3 separate regions of the Homo sapiens genome follow, and regions 1 and 2 are each linked to region 3. Evidence: fine-mapped expression QTL. A gene starts in region 3. Each other region holds a variant in brackets. All regions are shown on one strand. Distances are between the middles of the regions.

Evidence for each region. PIP is the estimated chance that this variant, and not a neighbour inherited with it, causes the effect.
Region 1: its variant is fine-mapped to the expression of PKD2 in anterior cingulate cortex (GTEx, PIP 0.98). The same link has a PIP of 0.9 or more in prefrontal cortex and spinal cord.
Region 2: its variant is fine-mapped to the expression of PKD2 in whole blood (TOPMed, PIP above 0.99). The same link has a PIP of 0.9 or more in esophagus muscle, pituitary and spleen.

The regions. Positions count from the first base shown.
Region 1 is chr4:87,973,375-87,981,601 of GRCh38, forward strand. SPP1 (secreted phosphoprotein 1) reads left to right here and starts at 2,340. Exons shown (of 7, transcript NM_001040058.2): 1 at 2,340-2,426; 2 at 3,508-3,575; 3 at 3,685-3,723; 4 at 6,672-6,752; 5 at 7,019-7,060; 6 at 8,101-8,227. The coding sequence starts at 3,522. It overlaps LOC124900730 (a long non-coding RNA gene), which reads right to left and starts at 395. Exons shown (of 2, transcript XR_007058172.1): 1 at 265-395. RefSeq lists promoters at 94-2,336, 1,336-2,423, 2,213-2,426, cis regulatory regions at 1,346-1,355, 1,571-1,579, 1,646-1,654, 2,092-2,107, 2,282-2,291 and 1 more and enhancers at 1,598-1,618, 1,981-2,480, 2,243-2,313. The variant C/T (reference allele first, on the strand shown) is at 4,415.
Region 2 is chr4:88,047,772-88,055,771 of GRCh38, forward strand. It overlaps PKD2 (polycystin 2, transient receptor potential cation channel), which reads left to right. Exons shown (of 15, transcript NM_000297.4): 7 at 4,220-4,387. Among named protein-coding and RNA genes, the nearest start is that of PKD2, 44 kb to the left of the region's middle. The variant T/C (reference allele first, on the strand shown) is at 4,083.
Region 3 is chr4:88,003,544-88,011,816 of GRCh38, forward strand. PKD2 (polycystin 2, transient receptor potential cation channel) reads left to right here and starts at 4,092. Exons shown (of 15, transcript NM_000297.4): 1 at 4,092-4,785. The coding sequence starts at 4,191. RefSeq lists silencers at 3,855-4,784, 4,835-4,974.

The DNA.
Region 1 (8,227 bases), 30 kb before region 3:
AATTGCCTCCCATTATAAATCACTTTATCTTCTCAACTCCAAAGCATCCCAGACACATTCTTTACCCGTGAATTCACAAGCCTTTTCTCTGAGAGAGGCCTTGGGACTAGGAACTTTTTGAATGAGTGTAGAAGTCGGGAAGGAGACAATAGTGTCAACTTGGGATTGCCTAAGGCAACAACAGAGCAAAACAAGAACGCTTTGGTTCTCTGGGTCTCTGTCCCTGATTGCATAGCGGGTCATTGTTGGGAAATATTTCCTCACCTGGCATTCCAAGAAATGGAGAGCTCCACAGCTGTATATAGTCCTGTCATTAAATACAGGAGTGTTCTATCCCGCTGGAATTAAGAAAATTGGTAGAACCAGATTGTGGTCTGAAATCTTTTTTCAGAAATGCTGCCATCGTGTGGCACTGCGGAGCTATGACCAGAAGAGTCCTGTAAAGGGTCGTATGGTTCATCTCAAGATGGCTGGGCTCCAGCATAATCTATTCCTATAATTAATTCTAGCTTCATATTGAATCATTCCCGTGGGCACAGAGTAAACTACAGTAAATCCTGTGGAAATTTTGTTGTTTTTAGAATTTTCAGACTTCCCTCCACTAAATTGACAACATGACACGCTTATGCGGGTATGTTTAAAGGAAAAAAATAGTTTTTAGAAGCAGAAAAAAGAAGTCTATTTTGCAACTTTATAATCTGTGTGCTTTCTATTTTATAGAGATAGTCGTCATCTTACTTATTAAAATGGGTGCTTATTACCTACAAACCAATCATATCAATTCATCTGGAATACATCCAATTTAAGGGAGACATATTTCCCCCTACCAAATGTTCATGAAACCTATGAATTAGCTATACACTATCACTGCAAGACATTATTTAATCTATATTTATATTAAAAGTAATATTTGGCAAAAGGAAGCTGACACTTTAGGACTAATAAAAACCACAATTACTTTTGCAGCAACCTAATAATAAATAGGACCATTTATTTTTCATCTCAATTACACACAAGTCTTAACAATAAAGGTGTAAGGTAAATAAATAGTGCAATCTGCATTTCACAACTGAGAAAGCAAATGAAGATAAGTAATCTCAAGGCAATATTAAATATTTTAAAAGGACCCAGAGCTCTGCTATCCCTGAATTCTGCTCTAATATTCGGACTTTCCCTGTAATTTTCTTTCATTCAGACACCTTTTAAATACCTAGTAAAGTGTTTTTTAATACAGAAATTTTTAAAAATGTTTTTCTTTTTAAGTGGCCTACTTTACATACCTTGGGAGAAAAACTAGAAAAAAAGATGATTCCAAAATCGAATCTGTTCCTTTAGAAATGTGCAAAATTTCCTTATTGATGCATACAATTTAAAGATCTTACGTCTACTCTCATTTTAATAACCTGTTCTTTTAAAGGACATTACAATTCGTGACTGCCTGCCCCTCTTAAAAATTTCATAATAGTTAACACACATATAGTCCTTAAGATACGCAGAGCATTTGCATCTAATATGTGCTAAGCATTGCTAGTTTAACATACTAATTCATTTAAACCCCTCAAAAACCCCATGACCTAGGTAATAGTATTGCATTTCATGGATGAGGGAACAAGGATAGGTAGGCTGGGCGATTTGCCCAAGGTTGCACAGGTCAGCAGTGACACAGCGGAATTCAGAACCACGGTCTGGCTCCTGAAGCAGCCCTCTCAAGCAGTCATCCTGCTCTCAGTCAGAAACTGCTTTACTTCTGCAACATCTAGAATAAATTACCATTCTTCTATTTCATATAGAATTTTATATTTTAATGTCACTAGTGCCATTTGTCTAAGTAACAAGCTACTGCATACTCGAAATCACAAAGCTAAGCTTGAGTAGTAAAGGACAGAGGCAAGTTTTCTGAACTCCTTGCAGGCTTGAACAATAGCCTTCTGGCTCTTCAATAAGTACAATCATACAGGCAAGAGTGGTTGCAGATATTACCTTTATGTTACTTAAACCGAAAGAAACAAAAATCCATTCTATTTAATTTTACATTAATGTTTTTCCCTACTTTCTCCCTTTTTCATGGGATCCCTAAGTGCTCTTCCTGGATGCTGAATGCCCATCCCGTAAATGAAAAAGCTAGTTAATGATATTGTACATAAGTAATGTTTTAACTGTAGATTGTGTGTGTGCGTTTTTGTTTTTTTTTGTTTTAACCACAAAACCAGAGGGGGAAGTGTGGGAGCAGGTGGGCTGGGCAGTGGCAGAAAACCTCATGACACAATCTCTCCGCCTCCCTGTGTTGGTGGAGGATGTCTGCAGCAGCATTTAAATTCTGGGAGGGCTTGGTTGTCAGCAGCAGCAGGAGGAGGCAGAGCACAGCATCGTCGGGACCAGACTCGTCTCAGGCCAGTTGCAGCCTTCTCAGCCAAACGCCGACCAAGGTACAGCTTCAGTTTGCTACTGGGTTGTGCATTCAGCTGAATTTCATGGGGAAGTCCAAATTCTAAGGAAAAATATTTTTAATTGTAATGCTGTTAAACAGACTTAAATTTTCTAGCCTTTTTAATAAGCAGATTAGATACATTGCAGGTCTCCTGGAACAAAGGTGTCTAGATATTTTGAATGCCAATCAAATTTAAAACTTAAAAATACTTCCACTGGGTCCTCAAAAGAACGGAAACCACCGATGCTAATCAGAAAATAGTAAAATTAAATTCCCCTTTGGAATAATTATACCTATATAATTTTCAGTGGGTGACTGTGCAGGAATTTAAAAGAAAAGGGATCTTTTATGCTAATTAAACCAATTACAATGCTATTTTTTAAATGATGTATCTCACTTTTAAGGGGAAGAAAACCCTTTCTGAATATGCCACTGCTAAATTTAGCTGTTAAAATATTCACCAAGATACCTGTATGACACTGTGTAGGCTTATTATTACAAATAGAAAAGCTGTTGGCTATTTTCAATGTTTTCCTTTGAATTTCAAATTTTTAGAACATCTTACTTAAATAACAAATTTCAGAGATAGTTTGATTTCACCTAAGTAGCACCTACTTGATAATTAAGCTAAAAGTCACATTTAAAGTACATGTTGGAAAAATGGATAAAGCAAATTTTTTTCATTTTTTTCTGTGAGTTTTTTCTTCTCTAAAAAATATTCCCATACTAGCTTATTAATATAATTAAGTTACTGTTGATCTGTTTGTAGGTTTAGAGAGCTAGATATATAAGGTAGTAATGGTATAATTTCTGGAACTCTAAATTTTAAAGTTGAATAAATACAGACTTGCAAAATTTCCCTTTCCCTTGCCTAATAGTGAAAGATGGATAATAGGTGGCAATATAAATATTAACTTGAAAGACTATAATACTAAAAAGAAAAGGCATCTCTAAGAAGTAGAAAAGATTCTATAGAAAATATATTTTATTTGTGATCATTTTGTAATGTGGTAGTATAAAAAGGTATCACTGTTGTAACCTATGAAGATGTCAGCTATTCCTTATGAAATATTTTGCAGGAAAACTCACTACCATGAGAATTGCAGTGATTTGCTTTTGCCTCCTAGGCATCACCTGTGCCATACCAGTGAGTACAGTTGCATCTTAAAGAAAATTCCTGAAAATAACTGAATTGTGTGCTTCCATGTGCTAGGAGGACATTCTTGTAATCTTTCTTCATCTTTTCTGTTTCTAAGGTTAAACAGGCTGATTCTGGAAGTTCTGAGGAAAAGCAGGTAAGCATCTTTTATGTTTTTATATAGTTAAATCATTTACTCAATTATGGCGAGAGGTGCAAGAAACGTATTTGCTGCGATATTACTTATCTTCTCAGTCAAATCCATTGGTTTACAAGTATTGATTGACTGCCTGCTATGAATCTAGGCCAGTACCAAGCACAGTATAGTTTTTAATAAATATAAGTTTATAAAACCAACCCAGATATTTTAAATATAATAATATCTAGGCATGTATGATGAGTTATCGCATGTAAGATAAGTTATATGAAGTTGTGTGACTTTTTTTCCATTAGTCCACATACTGATCTAAAAGCAGAAAATTCCAGCTTTTGCTTTGTTTAGTGGATTGCTAAGTTTAAAATTCACATTGGATATTAGTCAGAACTGTTTGTATGACCATAATATTCACAATATTGTCTGAGATATTAGCTGAGAAGCCCATTGTGAAAAGAAAGTCTATGTGTGCTGTTTGTATCTATTGTGATTGTCAGCTGATGTTAGATCACATTTTCTAACCAAACATAAGACCAACCAAACTCTTTATTATAATTATTTGACCAGCACTAAAGATGTACCTACCCCTCCACAACAGATGAAACTGTGCCAGCCAAACAACAAATGGGCATTGTCCCCAGAAGCTTGGACAAAAAGGCACACAGAGTTCAATTCCAGTTGAACAGAATAAAGG[C/T]CAAAATAGAGCTGCCTTGGGGGTCACTGCAATTAGACTGCTTAATGAAGACATTAAAAGAAGTATTCTGTGTTCGTTTGTGTGTGGAGGGGTGTGTGTGTCTGTTTTTCAACTGATTTGAAAATACAGGTGTTGAATCCTAATAATAAACCAGAAAAATTAACATCTCCAGAGAAGATAGAGGTCATACTATTTGAGGCAAGAATTAGCGTCTTTTTAATAAACGAAAATATGGCAAAGATGCATTTTAGAAGGCACGTGGAGCTATAACAATTTAAGAAATACGTGAAGAGCTCAAGGCTCAGCCTTCTAGAATCCCAGAAACTTAAAGCTAGTAAAAAATTGGGGAAGTCTCTAAGGATATATGCCTGAAAATACACACTGGTTATCTGTGAGTGTTAGGATTACTGGGTGGTTTTTAGTCTATTCATTTTGCTTACCTTTATTTTCTTCATATTAGTTTTTAAAAATTATAAATGTAACTTATACATCCATTCTCTCTGAGCCTGTATTACATGTGTCATGAGAATAGATAGATAGATATGAAAAAGTGAAGAGAAAAACTCTGAACTCATCTGGTCTCACTGTTTTTCCGCCTTCTTTTTTTTTTTTTTTTTTTTTTTTTGAGACGGAGTCTCGCTCCGTCGCCCAGGCTGGAGTGCAGTGGTGTGATCTCGGCTCACTGCAAGCTCCGCCTCCCAGGTTCACCCCATTCTCCTGAGTAGCTGGGACTACAGGCGCCCGCCACCACGCCCGGATAATTTTTTGTATTTTTAGTAGAGACGGGGTTTCACCGTGTTAGCCAGGATGGTCTCCATCTCCTGACCTCGTGATCCACCCTCCTTGGCCTCCCAAAGTGCTGGGATTACAGGCGTGAGCCACTGCGCCCGGCTGTTTTTTCATCTTCTTAAAGCAAGGAACCCCTTCTTTCAGCAAAACCTTTCGGAGAAGCCCAATACTAAGCTCCTCTGGTTAGAGCCAGCCATGAGAGAAACTCCAAGTACTTCTGACTGGTTCTCTCTCTACTCATCCACCCCTTAGGTGGCTGCAGAAGGAACTCTGTGCAACCCCCAGAGTTCTCATTCTCAGTGACAGGGAAATGTAATGATTGGCCCTGGATGATTCAGCAGATCAGATGATACTTACTCAGAGCAATTTCCACTCCTTTGCAGTAGCATATTATCAGTATTTTCCAGATAAATAACTTGGCTAAAGAAAAATCCATTTCATTTACATCTTTGGCACCTTACAGCAATAGAACTTTTGTGCAATGATTTTAATATTATATTTCTACATTGGCTGATAAGATACATATGGCTATTGAGCACTCAAAATGTGGGCTAGTGCAACTGAGGAACTGAATTTTTATCTTCTTTTTTTTTTTTTTTTTTTTTGAGATGGAGTCTTGCTCTGTCACCCAGGCTGGAGTGCAGTGGCGCAATCTTGGCTCACTGCAAGCTCTGCCTCCTGGGTTCACGCCATTCTCTTGCCTCAGCCTCCCCAGTAGCTGGGGGTACAGGTGCCTGCCACCACGCCCGGCTATTTTTTTTTATTTTTATTTTTTTTAGTAGAAACGGGGTTTCACTGTGTTAGCCAGGATGTTCTCGATCTCCTGACCTCGTGATCCGCCTGCCTCGGCCTCCCAAAGTGCTGGGATTACAGGGGTGAGCCACCGTGCCTAGCCATTTCATTTTAATTAACTTAAATTTAAATAGCTCCATGTGGTTAGAGGATACTGAATTAGCACAGTCTTAGAGAGTTCCTTCTTGTTCCATGGACTGGACACAATGAAGATTAACAGTAATTAAGGTCACTTCTGGTTTAGATGTGCTTTATCTGAGAGGAAAATTCAGCCAGCAAACATACAAAAAGAAAGCACAGTGTGAAGTTCGGTGTTAAGAGCTAGTTTGCCTGCGTTTGAACCCTGCCTGGCTCTGCCATTTCCTACCACTTAACTGCACTGTGGCTGAGTTTTCTGATCTGTAAGGTGGGAATAATAATGATACCTATCTCATAGGGGAATGAAAGGATCAAATGAGTTCATATTTGTAAAGCAATTTGAAAGAGTGCCTAGCCCACAGTAAGTGCTACATAAGAGTTTGTTAAATGAATCTGCAAAAAAAAAAAAATTACAAAAAGGTACCTAAGGGTCCGGGTGACTATATGCTTCCATCAAGACTAGTGAAGAATGGTTGTTTTTTCCATTCATCCCTACATTTCTTTTTTTAATAATGATAAACATGCAACTTTTTTGTAGCTTTACAACAAATACCCAGATGCTGTGGCCACATGGCTAAACCCTGACCCATCTCAGAAGCAGAATCTCCTAGCCCCACAGGTATTTTTAAACTTCTCATAATTAAACTACAGTGATGAAAGATAGCCACACTCAGGCCATTTGGGCTGCTCAGATGAATCCTGCCTGCCTGCTGGCAAACATGTGCTTAGGACATTGACTGATCTGCCATGTTGGCTTCTCTCTGTGTTAAGCCATCCACAGATGAGGCTGAAAAATAAAAACTGCTTTGGATTAAAAAGGTTAACTTTTGAATAAAAAAGCTAGGCATGTGTGATGCGCACTAACACGTGCCATTCCTTCTTCAGAATGCTGTGTCCTCTGAAGAAACCAATGACTTTAAACAAGAGGTAAGTTCTCATTTTCAATCAGAGGCCCATCATGCCTTGAAGAGATGAAAGAAGGCATTGCCTGGATTCTCTTCTGATGAAATTTCATTAGCAAGTTTTCCAGCTAATTGGCAGTCTAAAACTTGCTCATAAATAAAACATGTATTTACTAAATATCAGAAATACTAGGTTTCCTCGGATAAGTTTAGCATTACAGAAGATGTTTATTAATGCCTGTTATTTGAAACATTAATCTGCTTGCAATTTATTTAAGGTATTTTGTAGATATCTAATATCTAATAAGCATCTAATTAATGCATATCAAAGCTAAGATTTTGCCTTTAGGAAAGTTTTCTTTCCTAATAAAATAGTTTATTTGACAACTATTCTTTTTATTAGGATCATTCATATATTTGCTAAGCAAAGAGTAAATTTATTTTCCTTAAGATTCAATTTGAATATACTAAGAATATTAAAGCAAGTTAGATAAATTACCCAATATATTTGTCAATTTGAAATTTGATAGACATTAGTTGTTTAATTCAATGGGCAGTTTTGAGCTGCAGTTTATACACACATGCATAACAGAGTCACCTTTCAATTATCCATGTTAATAGGAAAGTGGTTATAGATTTTAGTACACACATTAAAATATGGATACTCTTCTCTTTTGATAAATCTCATTTCAAATAAAAAAACCAGTCTCATAATTATGTATCTGTATCTATTACATCATTGAATTTAGTAAATAATGTTTAATATGTATAAGGAAAAACAATGTTATTGACATGAAGATTATACTCACATATTTGGCTTGAAAATATCTATAAAAATAATTTCTGTTGCAAAGTAAGAAATGTTCTTCAGAATGTTATTAATCCCTGTGTTAAAAGAGAAATTGGAAGATGCTCACTTTAGCTCCTAAAAGCCATGGTATGTACTGTGAATGCAAAGATTCTGAAACTAAATAAAAAGAAAGATAGTAAAAGACTAATGTGCTATAAAGGCTAAGGGAAAATAAAAACCCATATATTAATTTTCCCGGCCATCTTAATTTTCAGACCCTTCCAAGTAAGTCCAACGAAAGCCATGACCACATGGATGATATGGATGATGAAGATGATGATGACCATGTGGACAGCCAGGACTCCATTGACTCGAACGACTCTGATGATGTAGATGACACTG
Region 2 (8,000 bases), 44 kb after region 3:
AGGATCACTTGAGATCAGGAGTTTGATACCAGCCTGGGCAACATAGTGAGACCCCATCTCTAAAAAATAAAAATAAAAAATAAATCAAAGGCAGAGTCATAATCAAGACCATGACACCATGTAAATTCTGTGTCTGCTCTTGACTCTATTATAACTTCTAAGATTTTTTTCAAGATGTTTTCCCTTCATCCTTATCACTTAATTAAGCATCCGTCACTTCCTTCCTGTGGTTTCAGTGTATAAAAGAATTTTTACAAGCTTTTCTCCCTTCAGCAATAACAGGTAACATTTCGCTAAGTCCAGTTGTACATTTAAGCATATAACAACATGCTTAATTATTAGATGCTTACAAGCTTTGCTTGGCATAGGTGTACCATGTATTATTCTATGTCTTTCCTTCCCACTGTCCTATGATAGCCATTACCTTCTGAAATCTCAGTAAATGATGCACTACCCTATTAGCATTCTCTCTTCTGTTAGCCCTCCTTATGAGAGTTATTCTTTCCCTCATCCCACTCCTAAAAATTCATTTGGCCTTTGTGGAGTATTTAGATCAAGTCATTATTAAACTATTCCCCACTAGAATTATTAATAGTTGATAAAATATGGAAAATATATTATTCATATGTGAGTGAAAGAACACTTAAAGCATAAAAAAGAACTACATGGCCATATATTGCATGGCAATAACTATATTAGCAGCAATAATAATTGTAATAGTAATAATAATAATGGCTAACACTTTAGAAGCTTCTGTGTTAGGCATTTCCGGGTGCTTTTCATGGTACAGAAGCTCATTTGTTCCTCATACTAACCCTCTTCACTACTCTGCCACTGCCTCTCAAGCCATGGATATGTGCACTTTAGAGTTTTTACTTAAAGTAAAAATTCCTGTAGAATAGATGGTGTTGACCCCATCAGACCGTGATGCAGTTAGAAGTGCATCCCGTCTTTTACGATGGCCATACAACATCACACAAATCAAGGTAAACCCTTGATCCCCAAATTCTCAATGTATTAATAATGAACAGAGTTACACAAGAATTTTAGCATTTAAGGAAACAGGAGAGACGATAATACTGGAAATAATTTTTCAGAATATTTCTGTTCGGATTGATGGCAGAGTGCAGGCCATATACATTGACAATTATTCCAGAACACAATTATTGTTTGGAGCTAAAAGGATGCAAACCCTGCCTCTTGGCTTATATGGATTTATTTATGTTTAGGCCATTGAAATAATGGTAGAAAGGTAAGTATGATATGCTAATTAAGAACAGACTTCCTTTTTATATTTTAACCAAAGAACTCAATATCAACAAAAGACTAGTCAGTGGTATTCACCCTTTTTGATCATACACACCTATCAGTGAAAGCTTTGACTACTACACACCCTAATTTATTATCTTTATTTGTAAATTGTGTGCCTACTTTGGTGTAACAGGTACATCCGTAAAACATACACATACATAGAATTTTAAAGATTGGAATAAAAGTTAATACAAATAGAATTCCAAAACTTTCTTACCACCTACCTAGAAGTTGTAACATTTTCTTCCCATAGCCCAGTGAATTGCCTTGCACCTGCTTTGGCGACCAATAGGAAGAAAGGCAATGATATCATGGAAATTGTCTCTTTGGCTCAACAGCCACAGCATTTTGCAAGTGTTTCTTTGAAAACTTGCTTCACTGTGTTTTTCAATTTTTTTTTTAAACAACACTTAATACTGCCAGACAACAATTCAGACAGTGTGCTTTTTGTTTATAAAGAACAAGGAAGGGCTACTGGAATCTCACTTGTCCTTTGAAACTTTTGCTGACCAAGTGTAGAAGTGAGGGCATGCCTTCTGCTCACCCACAAAACACACCCTGTGCTCCACTGGACCTTCAAACCAGTGGAAAGACCCAACGCTTTTTGTTTTATCTAGCCAAAATTTGCTTATGCTTACCCAAAACCTGAAAAGAAATTATATTCTTAATATAAATACAATCACATCTTGAAATCACTTTGAAATTTTCTTTATTTTCCTTTTTTCTTTCCCCAACATATGTTCTGAAGTACACAGGCTGCATCAGTCAGCCATTTGTCCTGAGCAATAGTCTTTCAAAACTAGAAGAATTACTTGAAAAAAAGAAGACTATTAAGGAATTTAAACTCAAATAATTTATTGACCACTTGCTAGGTTGTACAGGGTAAATTTTTTTTTTTTTTTTTTTTTTTGAGATGGAGTCTTGCTCTGTCACCCAGACTGGAGTACAGTGGCACCATCTCGGCTCACTGCAAGCTCTGCCTCCCGGGTTCACGCCATTCTCCCTCCTCAGCCTCCTGAGTAGCTGGGACTACAGGTGCCTGCCACCATGCCCAGCTAATTTTTTGTATTTTTAGTAGAGACAGGGTTTCACCGAGTTAGCCAGGATGGTCTCGATCTCCTGACCTCGTGATCCGCCCACCTCAGCCTCCCAAAGTGCTGGGATTACAGGCGTGAACCACCGCGCCTGGCCCGACTAATTCATTTATTCAGCGAGTGTTTTCTGAGCACCTACTATGTACTTGCCACTGTTCTAGGCACTGGGGATACAGGAATGAACAAAATCACCCAAATCTCTGCCCTCCCAATTTTCTGGTATGGAGAGAAAGTTCTTTTGTAGATAGGGATGAGAATCCCACAGAAAACTCAGGAGTGATGTAACAATGCAAATGCTCACAAAATCTCTTTCCTCATCTTTCATTCCCTATTTGGAAGGAAAGGTTTCAAAGACATTGATGTTGTATAAATGACCATCTTCTTCATTATTTTATAAACATTTGTCCTGTGCAGAGTAAAAACAACTGGACTGCATAACAAATTATACCTATTGAGAGTTGGGTAAAGAGTTACCATTGGATCCAGTCCACCAACCCAAATGTTTTTCTACATGTATTAGCTGAGATGAGCTCCTCATCTCAGGAGAAGCCTATTCCCACTGCAGGCCTTCTTGAGTCTGCTGTGTTCATCATTCCCACCACCAACACAAAAATACAAGATTGGCTCTGGAAATCCTTCACAGAGAAGGAAGGAAAGGAAGATGGTGAGGTTGGCTTTTTAGCTGTGATCAGCAACCAAGCTGGTCTTTGCTATGAGAATCAGTGGGACCATGATCTCTATGGTCATCTCAGGAAGGGAGGGCTAATGAAGTGGTCTCTGGCCATGATTCCTAAGAAGAGAGAATGGACAGCAAAGATCGCAGCACCTGCCACAGCCCACCTGCTGCAGATTCAGACCCCCTGGTGGGGCCAGGTTGTTATGACTAACCCCTAGCACTGTCTACATTTAGTGGTGATGGATGCCAAGGAGGGGGCAGTGTCCCCTTGGATCTGATTGTAAAGCTTAGAACCAAAGCATATGTGGAAAGTTGTAGGGTCATGAGTTAAGGGACAGAAATGAGCAAGAGAGAAGCCCTTGGCTCATATATTCCCACTGCAGGCCTTCTTGAGCCCTCTGTATTCATCATTCCCACTGTCTTTCAAGCCCAAGCTCATGCTTTGTTCTCATGGGCACTCATTTTTAGGATATCTTTTGTCCCTCTTGACTTTATGTTGTGTGATACCAACTCTTTAGTAGTTTTTTGTATTATTTAACTTCATGTGTTTATCTGCTCTTGAGTCTCGAGGGCAGGATTTATGCAGTTTACTTCTGTTTATTCCTCTTAGCCCTTGCACAGTGCTGTATACATAGACATCTACTATATTTTTGTTAAACAGAGCAAAGAATGGCTGGCAATTGGAGAATGCAGAGAAACCGAAAAATTTTAAATTTAAAAATCACAAATAAAAACAGCAGGATGAAGGCAAGAAAGCAAAAGGGTGGAAAGTGATTAAAATGAAGGTGGCAGAAAAAACAGAAAGCATTCCTCTTTGAGTTTGAGTCTGTTATAGTGTGATCTCTTCTGTGTATGCATGTATGTGTGTGTAATGTATATGTGCACACACATGCATGCATGCCTTCGTTGAGTTTCTATTCCGAACTAAGGAAATGCAAGCAATATACTGTTTTACTTATTTTATGGCAGGGCTTAACACTTTCCATTTGAGTGAGTGACTT[T/C]TAAGAATGACATCGGGTAAGTATAATGGTGAGCCCTTATAATTAATACATTGGTGAAGAAAAATATACTAGTCATATTAAGGTAAGTTTCATATTTCTAAAACACTGTAATAAAATATAAATATTTTGCTTTTCAGCTGTCAGTGGTAGCTATAGGAATTAACATATACAGAACATCAAATGTGGAGGTGCTACTACAGTTTCTGGAAGATCAAAATACTTTCCCCAACTTTGAGCATCTGGCATATTGGCAGATACAGTTCAACAATATAGCTGCTGTCACAGTATTTTTTGTCTGGATTAAGGTAATTTATAAATTTCATGTTCTACATTTTAAATAATATTTTCTTTAAAAAAAATGAGTTCCACAAAATCATGGAATACTTGAATTTGAAATTCAAGTGACCAGCCAAAGCTGCTCAATATTTACTTTGAGACAGGGTCTCACTCTGTCACCCAGGCTGGAGTGCAGTGGTATGATTACAGCTCATTGCAGCCTCGACTTCCCAGGCCCAAGCGATCCTCCCACCTTATCCTCCGAAGTCACTGGGACTACAGGCATGTGCCACCATACCCGGCTAATTTTTAAATTTTTTCGTAGAGACAAGGTCTCATTATGTTGCCCAGGCTGGTTTTGAACTCCTGGGTTCAAGCAATCCTCCCACCTCAGCCTCCCAAAGTGCTGGGATTACAGGCATGAGCCACCGTGCCAGGCCTCATATTTTACATATAAAGTAAACTATTGAGACTCATGTGATCATTCCTCTCACTGTCAATGACATACTTCTGCTATCTGAATTAGTGCAAGATCAGTCCCTATAGGTTTTGTTTAACAAATGCAGTAAGAGGCCTTTCAGTGTGTTAGCTGGGCCTGGGGCCCCAGGCTGCTAACAGATGAGATGAACAGGTGAAGGAAAAGGAACTTAGAGAAAGAGAGGGAAGGAGCAGGTGGAGGGAAGGGGAGAGTTGCTGCACTTGGAAATGCTTGCTAGAAGGGATCGCCTCTTTTCCAGGTAGAGGCTGTAAGGGAAGCTTTACCTAGAATTAAGGTTGGAACAGACACTGCTTCCAAATAGTTCCTTGCTCACTATTTTCCTTATTGTCCCAAGATATAATGTGCATTTCCATGTGTGTGAAAGGTTATGACATTTCATATACAACAAGCCTCAATTCTGGAGATGCAGGAAATTTCAATAATTCTCAGGCAGCAGCTGCCATTCGGTCACCAGCACAGGCTCTGATTGTGCTGTCCAGACAGTAAGTACTAGCCACATGTGCCTATTTAAATTCAAATTTAAATTAGTTAAGCTTAAATACAATTAAAAACGCAGTTCCTTGGTCCTACTGGCCACACATTAAGTGTTCAATGGCTACTGTCTAGGACAGTGGAAATGTAGAACATTTCCATCATCACAGAACGTTCTCTTGAAAAGCACTGTTCTGGAAGGTACTTACCCGTTATGTACTTTTCTGAGTTGGTATTCATACCTAGAAGACCTGAGGTTTATCACAAGACATAGACTTGGACCAGGCGCAGTGGCTCATGCCTGTAATTCCAGCATTTTGGGAGGCCGAGATAGGTCCCCTGAGCCCAGGAGTCTGATACCAGCCTGGGCAACATGGCAAAACCTCATCTCTACTAAAAATACAAAAATTAGCTGGGGGTGGTGGCACGTGCCTGTAGTCCTAGCTACTTAGGAGGCTTAGGCGGGAGGATTGCTTGAATCCAGAAGGCGGAGGGTGCAGTGAGCCAAGATCGCACCGCTGCACTCCAGCCTGGGCAACAGAGTGAGACCCTGTCTCAAAAAAAAAAAAAAAATGCATAGACTTTATCCTGTATTTCTCATGCTATTTATTTATTGACATGCTTGTTCAAGAGAAACCATCACTAAAGCACAAAACCTTGATCATAACATAGTAATAATAATCAAACAGCAAAAATAATAATAGTAATAAGAATGTTCTGTGGTGATGGAAATGTTCTATATTTTCATTGTCCTAGACAGTAGCCACTAACCATGTATAGGCATGGAACACTTAACATGTGGCTAGTAGGACCAAGGGACTGAATTTTTAATTGTATTTAATCTTACTTAATTTAAATTTGAATTTAGATATCCACACATGTTTGGATAGCACAGTCAGAGCCTGTGCTGGTGAAAGGATGGCAGGTGCTGCCTGAGAATTACTGAAGTTTCCTTGATTATTATTAGTTTAATAATAATAATCAAGATAGTAATAATAATCAAGATAGTAATAATAATCAAGATCTCAGCTGGGCACAGTGGCTCACGCACTTTGGGAGGCTGAGGCGGGCAGATCACCTGACGTCGGGTTTGAGACCAGCCTGGCCAACATGGTGAAACCCTGTCCCTACTAAAAATACAAAAAAAAAAAATTAGCTGGGTGTGGTGGCACGTGCCTATGATCCCAGCTACTTGGGAATCTGAGGCAGGAGAATTGCTTGAACCCAGGAAGCAGAGGTTGCGGTGAGCTGAATCATGCCACTGCACTCCAGCCTGGGCAACAGAGCAGCACTTCGTCTCAAAAAAAAAAAAAAAAGATCTCAAATGAATTGGGATTGTATTAAGTAATGATTAAGTAATGTGATTACAGCAATCCTCAAGAAATATTTCACTGTGGCCAGTAACAATGTGTAACAGACCTTTAAACTTCTAGAGATTTTCCTACAACATGTGTCTCAGGCTGATGTGTTTTATTTAGTGCTTCTCTTGGAAATGTCTTGCCCCTCGATACTTTATCATTAAGGTCTTTAAGGCAGGGATCATGACTCTACTTTTTTTTTTTTTTTTTTTTTTGGGACGGAGTCTTGCTCTGTCGCCCAGGCTGGAGTGCAGTGGCACAATCTTAGCTCACTGCAACCTCCGTCTCCTGGGTTCACGCCATTCTCCTGCCTCAGCCTCCCGAGTAGCTGGGACTACAGGCGGCTGCCACCACGCCCGGCTAATTTTTTATATTTTTAGTAGAGACGGGGTTTCACCGTGTTAGCCAGGATGGTCTCGATCTCCTGACCTCGTGATCCACCCACCTCGGCCTCCCAAAGTGCTGGGATTACAGGCTTGAGCCACCACGCCCGGCCTCATGACTCTACTTCTAATATCTCATCATGTGCTCTTCCACTGAGGCTTCTACTTAGAGCTACACAATCTGGGCAGCCATCCTCAGTGCCTTATCTACCAACATGCTCAATATGGCTTTGCAGGGTTCACTGTCTACCAGCAGGGTTCACTATCTACCAACATGCTCAATATTTCTTTGCAGTCAGGCAGAGCAGGCTTTGCAGTTCAGGCAGGGCAGCTGGCTGCAGGCCCCAGCTGACTCCTGGGGATAGAATGCCAATATTTCAGACATTGCAGAGATTTGAGGCAATGTACATAAAGCCCTCCACATATAACTGATGCACAATAAATGACAGTTAATATTATGCAACAAGAATTTCCTGGGGGGTTTTATAATTAATTTTTATTTGTGTGAAGTTTTTTCCCTCCCTTTTACTTTAATCCTTTTTGGGGGGAAAGCATCACTAGTCACAGTTCACGGCAGCCTCGACCTCCCAGGCTCAAGCAACCCTCCCACCTCAGCCTCCTGAGTAGCTGAAACCACAGGTGTGTGCCACCACACCTGACTAATTTATTTTTATTTTCTAATGAAACAGAATCTTGCCATATTGCCCAGGCTGATCTTAAACTCATGGGCTCAAGCGATCCTCCTGCCTCAGTCTTCCAAAGTGCCGGGATTATAGATGTGAGCCACTGCACTCAGCCTTTTTTTTTTTTTTTTTAATTGTAGATAGCATAAAACCTACTGTTTTAACCATGCTTAAGTGTACAATTCAGTGGCATTAAGTACATTCACAGTGTTGTGCAGCCATCGCCATTATGCTGCATTATTTTCAGA
Region 3 (8,273 bases):
AAATTAACATAAAAGCACAAAAGGGAACCTTAGTAAGCCAGAAGGAATGAATAAGTATTTGAACAGGAAATATATTAGATGGCTGGTGTTGGGTTTATGAAAATTAAGATTGAAATTAATATTGAAACTCCAAAATGTAAGATTTAGGGTGCAATGGACCAAATGCTATTTAAGTGGTATTACACAAAAATTGCTGCGAATTTTTAATGATTACATTTCTTGCAATAATTTGTAAAGAAAATTTTGGGTAAGCACACATATAACTCTGAATTATGTATGTGCAGACACATTTCCAATCAATTTGAATTCTTTTAAGGGTGAGGATATAGTTTCAGGAAGATTTCAGATTTTGTTTTAAATAGGAACTGACACTCTAGAAAGAAAAAAAAAAGGCCTATTTATGTTATCATTAACTATAGAGAGTCTGTACTCCTTAACACACATCTGAGGCTTCCTATGATCTGGCCCTACCTACCTTCCCTACCCATGCCAGCCTGGGCAATCTCTCTTCTAAATCCCCTCAAACCCTGTAAAATATAAGCTCACCTCTATGAGAGCTAGGCTTTTCCCCTATTTAATGAATTGCCGTCTCTCCTAGTATTGTGCCTGGCATATAGTAGGTGTTTAGTAAGTATTTGTTATAGAAGCCTCTAGGATTGGCATGGAGCCCTCCAGAAACTCACAGCCTAGCTGGAACAAAGACATCCACAAAAGCAATTATAATAGATGAAAATAGTTATCATAATTAAGATATAAGAGCTAAGACCACTTCTAACACTAACAAAGACATCCACAAAAGCAATTATCATAGATGAAAACAGTTATCATAATTAAGATATAAGAGCAAAGACTACTTCTAACACTATTAGCACGTACATGTCAGACGGTGTTCCACATGCTATGGTCTGGGTGTTTGTGTTCCCCCCCCATAATTCATACATTGAAATCCTAACCTTCAAAGTGATGGTATAAGGAGCTGGGGCCTCTGAGAGGTGATTACATCATGGGGCTGGAGCCCTCACAAATGGGATTAGTGCCCTTAGAGAAGCAGCTCAAGGGAGCTCTTTTGCCCCTTCTACCATAAGACACAGCTAGGAGGTGCAGTCTATGAACCAGAAAGTAGACCCTCACCAGACCACAAATCTGCTGGCAGCATGATCTTGGACCGTCCAGCTTCCAGAACTGTAAGAAATAAAGGTTCATCGTTTATAAGCCACCCACTACATGATATTTTTTATAGCAGCCCGAATGGACTAAAACACATGTATTAATTCACCTAATCCTCACAACAACCCTATGAGGTAGGCATTATCATTATCCTCATCTTTGGTGGTACAAGGAGATAAAGTGACTTTCCCAAGGTCACACAGCTAGGAAGTAGTGAGTAAATCAGAATCCAGGCAGTCTGGCTCCAGGGTCCTTACAACGAATTAGTGACTGCAGGCACAAGCATAGAGTAACCTGACTCAAAGACCACTGAATTTTCTTCTAAGTCTGGGATTCCAGATGATTGTCTCACTAGTGCTAACAGTGAAGTATAGAAATGTGGGGGAAATATTTATGAAACCTCTTCCATTTGGAACACATTGGTGCTTCTCAAACTTTGGATGCCTGAGAATCCCCTGTGAAGATTCAGAATTTCAGGACTGGAATCCGGAAGATTTTGAGTCAATAAGGTTGGAATGTGGACCCAGTATCTATATTTTTAGCAAGAGCTGCAAGTGATGCTGGAGATCTTCTGATCACAATTTGAAAACATTGTACTAGGCCTATTCTCCAGAGGACCCTTTGGCTCAGATTCTGCATTCTCTTTCCAGGCCTGGCTCTCCTCTGTTGGAATGTGTCTGTAAGAATCCTTCGACTCTGCAGTGCTGCTGGTGCTATTCAGGACATCTTCAGCTTCAGAAGTTCCTTGGATGACAGGCACCATAACCCTTAACCCACTTGGTAATCTCTCATTTTTGGTCTGTCTCCTCTTGAGGGCCAAGGCTGTATCATACTCCTCTCTACATGCCCAGACCTTAATTCAGGGCACAGGAAATGTCTTCAGAATGAACTGATGAATAGCATGAGCTAGGGCTGTGCTCCAGACCCACCAGTCTTGCCTTTGAGAAGCTCACAGTTAAGAGAAGAACATGAATATCTAAATTAATAAACTGCAGGATCAGGTAATAGGTAGCCATAATTACCTAAATATTAGCAGCATGTTATATGTGCCTAGAGAACAAATGAATAATTCATTAAGGTGGATGGATGGCATGGGATGCCATGCTAGAGGAGTACATTAAGAGCTGTTAAAGCTAAATTGTGTCCCCCCAAAAATTTCTGTGTTGAAGTCCTAACCCCCATTACCTCAGAACATGACCATACTTGGAGACAGGGTCTTTACAGAAGTAATGAAGTGAAAACAAGGTCATGAGGGTAGGCCCTAATCCAATATGATGTATAAGAATAGACAATTAGGACACAGACGCATACAGAGGGAAGAGGGAAGACGGCGTGAGGACACAAAAGCGGGGCCATCTGCAAGCCAAGGAGAGAGGCCTCAGAAGAAACCAACTCTGCCAACACCTCGTGAGAAAATACAATTTTTCTTTTCTTTTTCCTTCCTTCCTTCTTTTTTTCTTTCTTCTCTCTCTCTCTTTCTTTCTTTATGAGACAGAGTCTCACTCTGTCACTTGGAGTGCAGTGGCCCGATCTTGGCTCACTACATCCTCTGCCTCCCGGGCTCAAGCGATCCTCCCACCTCAGCGTCCCTAATAGCTGGGACCAAAGGCACACACCGCAAAGCCTGGCTAATTTTTGTATTTTTTGTAGAGACAAGGTGAGCAAATAAATTTCTGTTAAGCCACCCAGTCTCTGGTACTTTGTTATGGCAGCCCTAACAAACAAATACAGGAGCAGATTATGAGAATTTACTAAACCAAACCACAGAAATTAAATTTTATCCTTTCAGCTGCCAGAAGCCCACAGAGGTGTCTAAGCATCAACGTGACAAATAAGCAGCTTTGGTTCTGCAATATAACCTGGAAATAGTGAGGACACCGACGTGGAGAATAGAGATGGGAGTTGACAGGGATCAATTGTTCTAATGCGGAATAATGCAAGACATAAGATCAAGCCAGCAGGAGTGAGAAACAGAGATCATATCAGGGTGATATCTGTGGGGCAAAAGTAACAAGAAGATAAGGTGTAGGCGGTGGAGGGTAAACCGCGAGGCTTCCATGAAGAAGAGTGGCCTGGGAAGTGAGGAGGACAGCGAAGCCCCAAACCTCACCTTGGGATACGGGAAGTGAAGCAGGTTCCAGAGAAGGGGACAAGATAATGACTTAGGGTAGGATAAATTTCAGACAATTGCAGAGCATCACATTAGATGTGTTCAGAAGAGTGGAAATAAAGTTCTGTGCCTAGGCCCTCATGCAGGATTCTGTTGCTAGAAGTCAGTGCTGGCCGCAGGGAGACCGGAGATCACAGTGGAGGCACCAGCGATCCGAGAGTCCTATGACGAATCCCTGGGATCCCCACAATGTGTGGAGACAGAAGCCAACCAAAGAGCGAGAAAGCATCTCCAAACCAGCAGAATCAGGGGCAGGAGGCCCGCCAAATGCACAGCAAGTCAGCCTTGGTAGTTTGCAAATGGAAAGATTTCTTTGACCCGCTGGAGACTTCAGCTCAGGCTGGATGTCGCTAATTCACACCATCTCACCAAAAGGTTCTTTCCCTGCCCTTTGGTGAATCGAGGCAGAAGTGGCTGGTGGATAACTGGGACCCAAGAGTTATCTCAGCGTCGGGCAGGCATCGACAGCTCCAGGAGCCCTTTCCCTGCAGGCGGGCTGGCGGGTGAGCGATTCCCTCCCTTCCCAGGCCTTCCCGGGAATGGAACGTGGGCGCCCGCGCCCGGGCTCCGGTTCCACTTGGAACGCGGACTCGGGAGCCGCCGGGCGAGCGCGCAGACCGCGGGGGCGGCTCCCTCGCACCTCCCCGCTCAGCGCGCCGCGGCGGATGGGCGAGGCGGGGCGAGGCCAGAGGGAGGCGGGCCAAAGGGGCGGGCGAGAGGACGCGGGACCGCGGGGAGGTCGGGGGCGGGGAGCAGGCGGCGGCGGGCGCCGGGAAGAAAGGAACATGGCTCCTGAGGCGCACAGCGCCGAGCGCGGCGCCGCGCACCCGCGCGCCGGACGCCAGTGACCGCGATGGTGAACTCCAGTCGCGTGCAGCCTCAGCAGCCCGGGGACGCCAAGCGGCCGCCCGCGCCCCGCGCGCCGGACCCGGGCCGGCTGATGGCTGGCTGCGCGGCCGTGGGCGCCAGCCTCGCCGCCCCGGGCGGCCTCTGCGAGCAGCGGGGCCTGGAGATCGAGATGCAGCGCATCCGGCAGGCGGCCGCGCGGGACCCCCCGGCCGGAGCCGCGGCCTCCCCTTCTCCTCCGCTCTCGTCGTGCTCCCGGCAGGCGTGGAGCCGCGATAACCCCGGCTTCGAGGCCGAGGAGGAGGAGGAGGAGGTGGAAGGGGAAGAAGGCGGAATGGTGGTGGAGATGGACGTAGAGTGGCGCCCGGGCAGCCGGAGGTCGGCCGCCTCCTCGGCCGTGAGCTCCGTGGGCGCGCGGAGCCGGGGGCTTGGGGGCTACCACGGCGCGGGCCACCCGAGCGGGAGGCGGCGCCGGCGAGAGGACCAGGGCCCGCCGTGCCCCAGCCCAGTCGGCGGCGGGGACCCGCTGCATCGCCACCTCCCCCTGGAAGGGCAGCCGCCCCGAGTGGCCTGGGCGGAGAGGCTGGTTCGCGGGCTGCGAGGTAAGAGCGCGCGACCCGCAGCGGCAGATGCACGAACCAGAACGGCCGGCGCCGGCCGGGGCCATCGCCCGCTGCGGCAGCTCCCCGGGCTCCATCTCGCATCCCCTCTGCGTTCCGCCTCCCTTGGAAGCGCATTCCCCACCTCCGCTAGTGCTGCCCTATTTCCGGTACCCAGCGCGGAATTCCACTGCTCTTTTGTTGGTGCATATTTATTGGATACCTCCTTCTTCAGGATATGTCACCATAGTCTTTTTTACTGAAAATTAGTGAAAGCCTAATTAGAGTGAAAGAGTACATCTGGGTTTTGTTTTTTTTTTTCTTGTAGAGGAAAAAATGAACATTACTTGTGTAACTGATGGTAGTTGCAACTGCATATTTGCCAATGTCACAAAATCTAAAGGAAAATGTTATAGTCACCCGTGGTTTCCTTCTTGCCTGGACACTCCATTGTCCCGGGCTGAAAAGGGTAGCAGTACAGTGCATATAATGTCAAGTTGTGGGAGGAGTGTGGCAGATTGTCATTGGTGCATTTTTTTGGTGATGTGTGTGGTTGTTTTGAGGAGTGGGAGCTGTTAAGAACACCACAAATAGAATAAAATAATATCGTGAAGTTATTTGGCCGTTTCTAATTCTAGACATTTTTCTAAAAACAGTTGCAAAGGAAAGATTACATTGTTTTAAAAAAATTTGAAGTATGTTTTTAAATAACTAAATTAATGTTCTTTGAAATTCCACCAAAATGATGAAGTCACCAGATAGCAGCTGATAAATGTGTCTGAGCCCAGTGCGCCCAGCTCTACAAAAGGCAGAAGAGGAATTTTCAAATTTGCCAGTGCCCAGTAAGAGGACATGAATTTTCTAGTACCAGAGGAAATTCTCTTTTTACAAATTTTGTCAGAGGTATCCTTGGGAAAGTATTTCATTTGCTTTTACCCTCCAAATTATTTTAATCTATATTTTTAAGAGTTTCCATTCTCAGTTGAGTTTTTCTTGTTCTTCTCCTTCTGTCAGTTTTGAAAGTCTTGCACAAAAACAATCCAGGTGTTGTTACAGCAGTGTGATTAAAACCAGGTCAGGCCTACACTGAAATCCCAGTTCCACCACTCATTAGCTGTACGACCTTGAGCAAGTTACTTATCCTCTCTGATACCCAATTTTTGGATTTTTTTTTTTTTTAAAGAGATGATCATAACGCTTAGGACTTGACTCTTTGGGAGAATTAAGTGAGTTAAGACATAAAATGTGCAGCATGTATTTGTCATGTTATTAGCGCTTCAGAAATATAAATGTAAACATTTTGGTACTTCGTTTATGGAGATTCTTATACTAGTTAATTTTATTAAAAGCATGATGGGGAACAGAAGATCCTTTTCGGATAACCTGTGTGAGTAAATTAATAAAACACTAACACTTTTTAAGATTCAAAACTGGATTAATTATGTTATTTTACACCATTTAAAATGTGCATTTAAAAAATATTCACTGAAGTGAGAGAGAAGTTCCTTTTAAGTTAATAAATAATGGTAAGTTGCATGATCCTTTTAACTCAGTTTAAGCATTTGATAACACCCCTAACCTTGTTTGAATAAACTCAATAACAGAATATAGAGAAATAAAATATATATTTCATATGAGTATGTATGTAAATTTATTTCTTTTAAAGGAAAATTTCAGGAAACAAAATGAATAAGCTCATAGTCATAAAACCTCTAGCCAAAGTGTGTCAATGGTCTGATTTGTAGGAGAGCAGACTCAGGAATCGGGAATTTTTTTTTTTTTTTTAAGAGTCGGGGTTTCACTCTGTCACTGAGGCTGGAGTGCGGGGAAGCAAACGTAGCTCACTGCGGCCTCAAACTCCTGGGCTCAAGCTGCCCTCCCACCTCAGCTTCCCAAGTAGTTGGGATTACAGGTGCAAGCTGCTGCTCCTAGCTGAAAAGTTTTAATTATATAAAATGTTTAAATAAATTGTTATTCCTTTCTTTTATGAAGAAATATAATTGATATTCTTGTCACTTATTAAATAAGCAACATTTTAAAATGTTTAGCACCTACTGTGAAGATAGCACTGTGCTAGCTGCTATGAATAAACTAGAATAGCATATCACTGTTTTCCTATGGACAAAAACCCAGAAATGTAAAATAAATAGCCATGAATGGGTTGAGATTCCCCCTGCCCCCTTTGGATACTGATGACAGAAATCTTATATGCACTATGTAAGCAGTGCCCTAGGATCAGAACAGAAAGTAACTTGCAATTTTTAAAGGTGGGAGAAATGACTGAAGTTTGGAGTGGTCAGGAGTTTCCCTGGAAGTCTCTTGCCTTTGTGACTTTGTATAGCTCCCTCAAACTACCTGAGCCTGAGCTCCTCATTTATAAAATGGAAGAATTGAACCTAGCTTCCAAGGTCCTTTCTAGCTTCACCATGCTCTGGTCTGTTGTTTAATGACATGAATCCAAGATGGACAACAAATGGTCGATTTTGCTCCTTCTACAGTAAATAGATCTATCTTCTTAGCAGAAGTAAAATAGTAAAGAAAGAAGACATGTTTGAGGCCTGTTGAGGCCTGTTTGCTGTATGCATTGTATCTAATCAAGGAATTGAGAATGTAGCCCTAAATATTAGGAAGGAGTTGAAAGTTTCTGAGCAGGAACAGAACATGCTGAAAGGAAATTGTGTCAGCAGCATGGTGTACAGGAGAGCTTGGCAGAGAGAAAGGAGGCAAGAAGACCTGTGGGAGGCAGCCAGTAAGGAGGTGAAGAGGGCCTGGACCAAAGGAAGCCAAGGATGACCGAAAGATTTAAAGATGAAGCCCAGATTTAAAAGTATCCTCAAGTATTTGTTTATTCTTTTCTTAGCAAATTCTTTTTAGTACAAAGATAAAATATGGCACTCTGAGTCATAAAATTTTCTGAATTTCAGAAGTTGAATGTTTTTCTGAATGTATCAACCTGTTAAAGTCAGTTCCTGTTTGTTATTTTAGGCGTATATTCTTGGGCTTTTTTTTTTTTTTCCTAGAGAAACTATGAAGTACTAGCTGTGCAAGTCAGGGTGGGCTAAGCTGCTAAAACAGATACCTCCCTCCCCTTCAATACCCTGAAGAACAAGAAGTTAATTTTTTGCTCGTGTAACATTTTAGAGAGGGTATTCCAGGTTGAATACCTGGAATAATGAATGAAATAATAAGTCGACTCTTATTTCTCCTAAAATAATTGGATCTTGACATTGAAATTGGTGTGCTGATTGTATTTAATAAGTGACCTCCAATGCAGTTATTTCATTTTGCCATACTTTATGTAATTTTTATTTTTTCTGCCTTCCCTTTCGATGTCTAAAGGGAAGCATAATTAGTTATTGGAAAGGTTATTGAGACTTAAAAAAAGATTTGAACATGGCTTTGGTTGATGCTACCACACAGAAACTGCAAACATCCAACTCACCGCTCTTAGTTGCTGTTCATGATAGTCTATGCACAGTGACTGATGAATT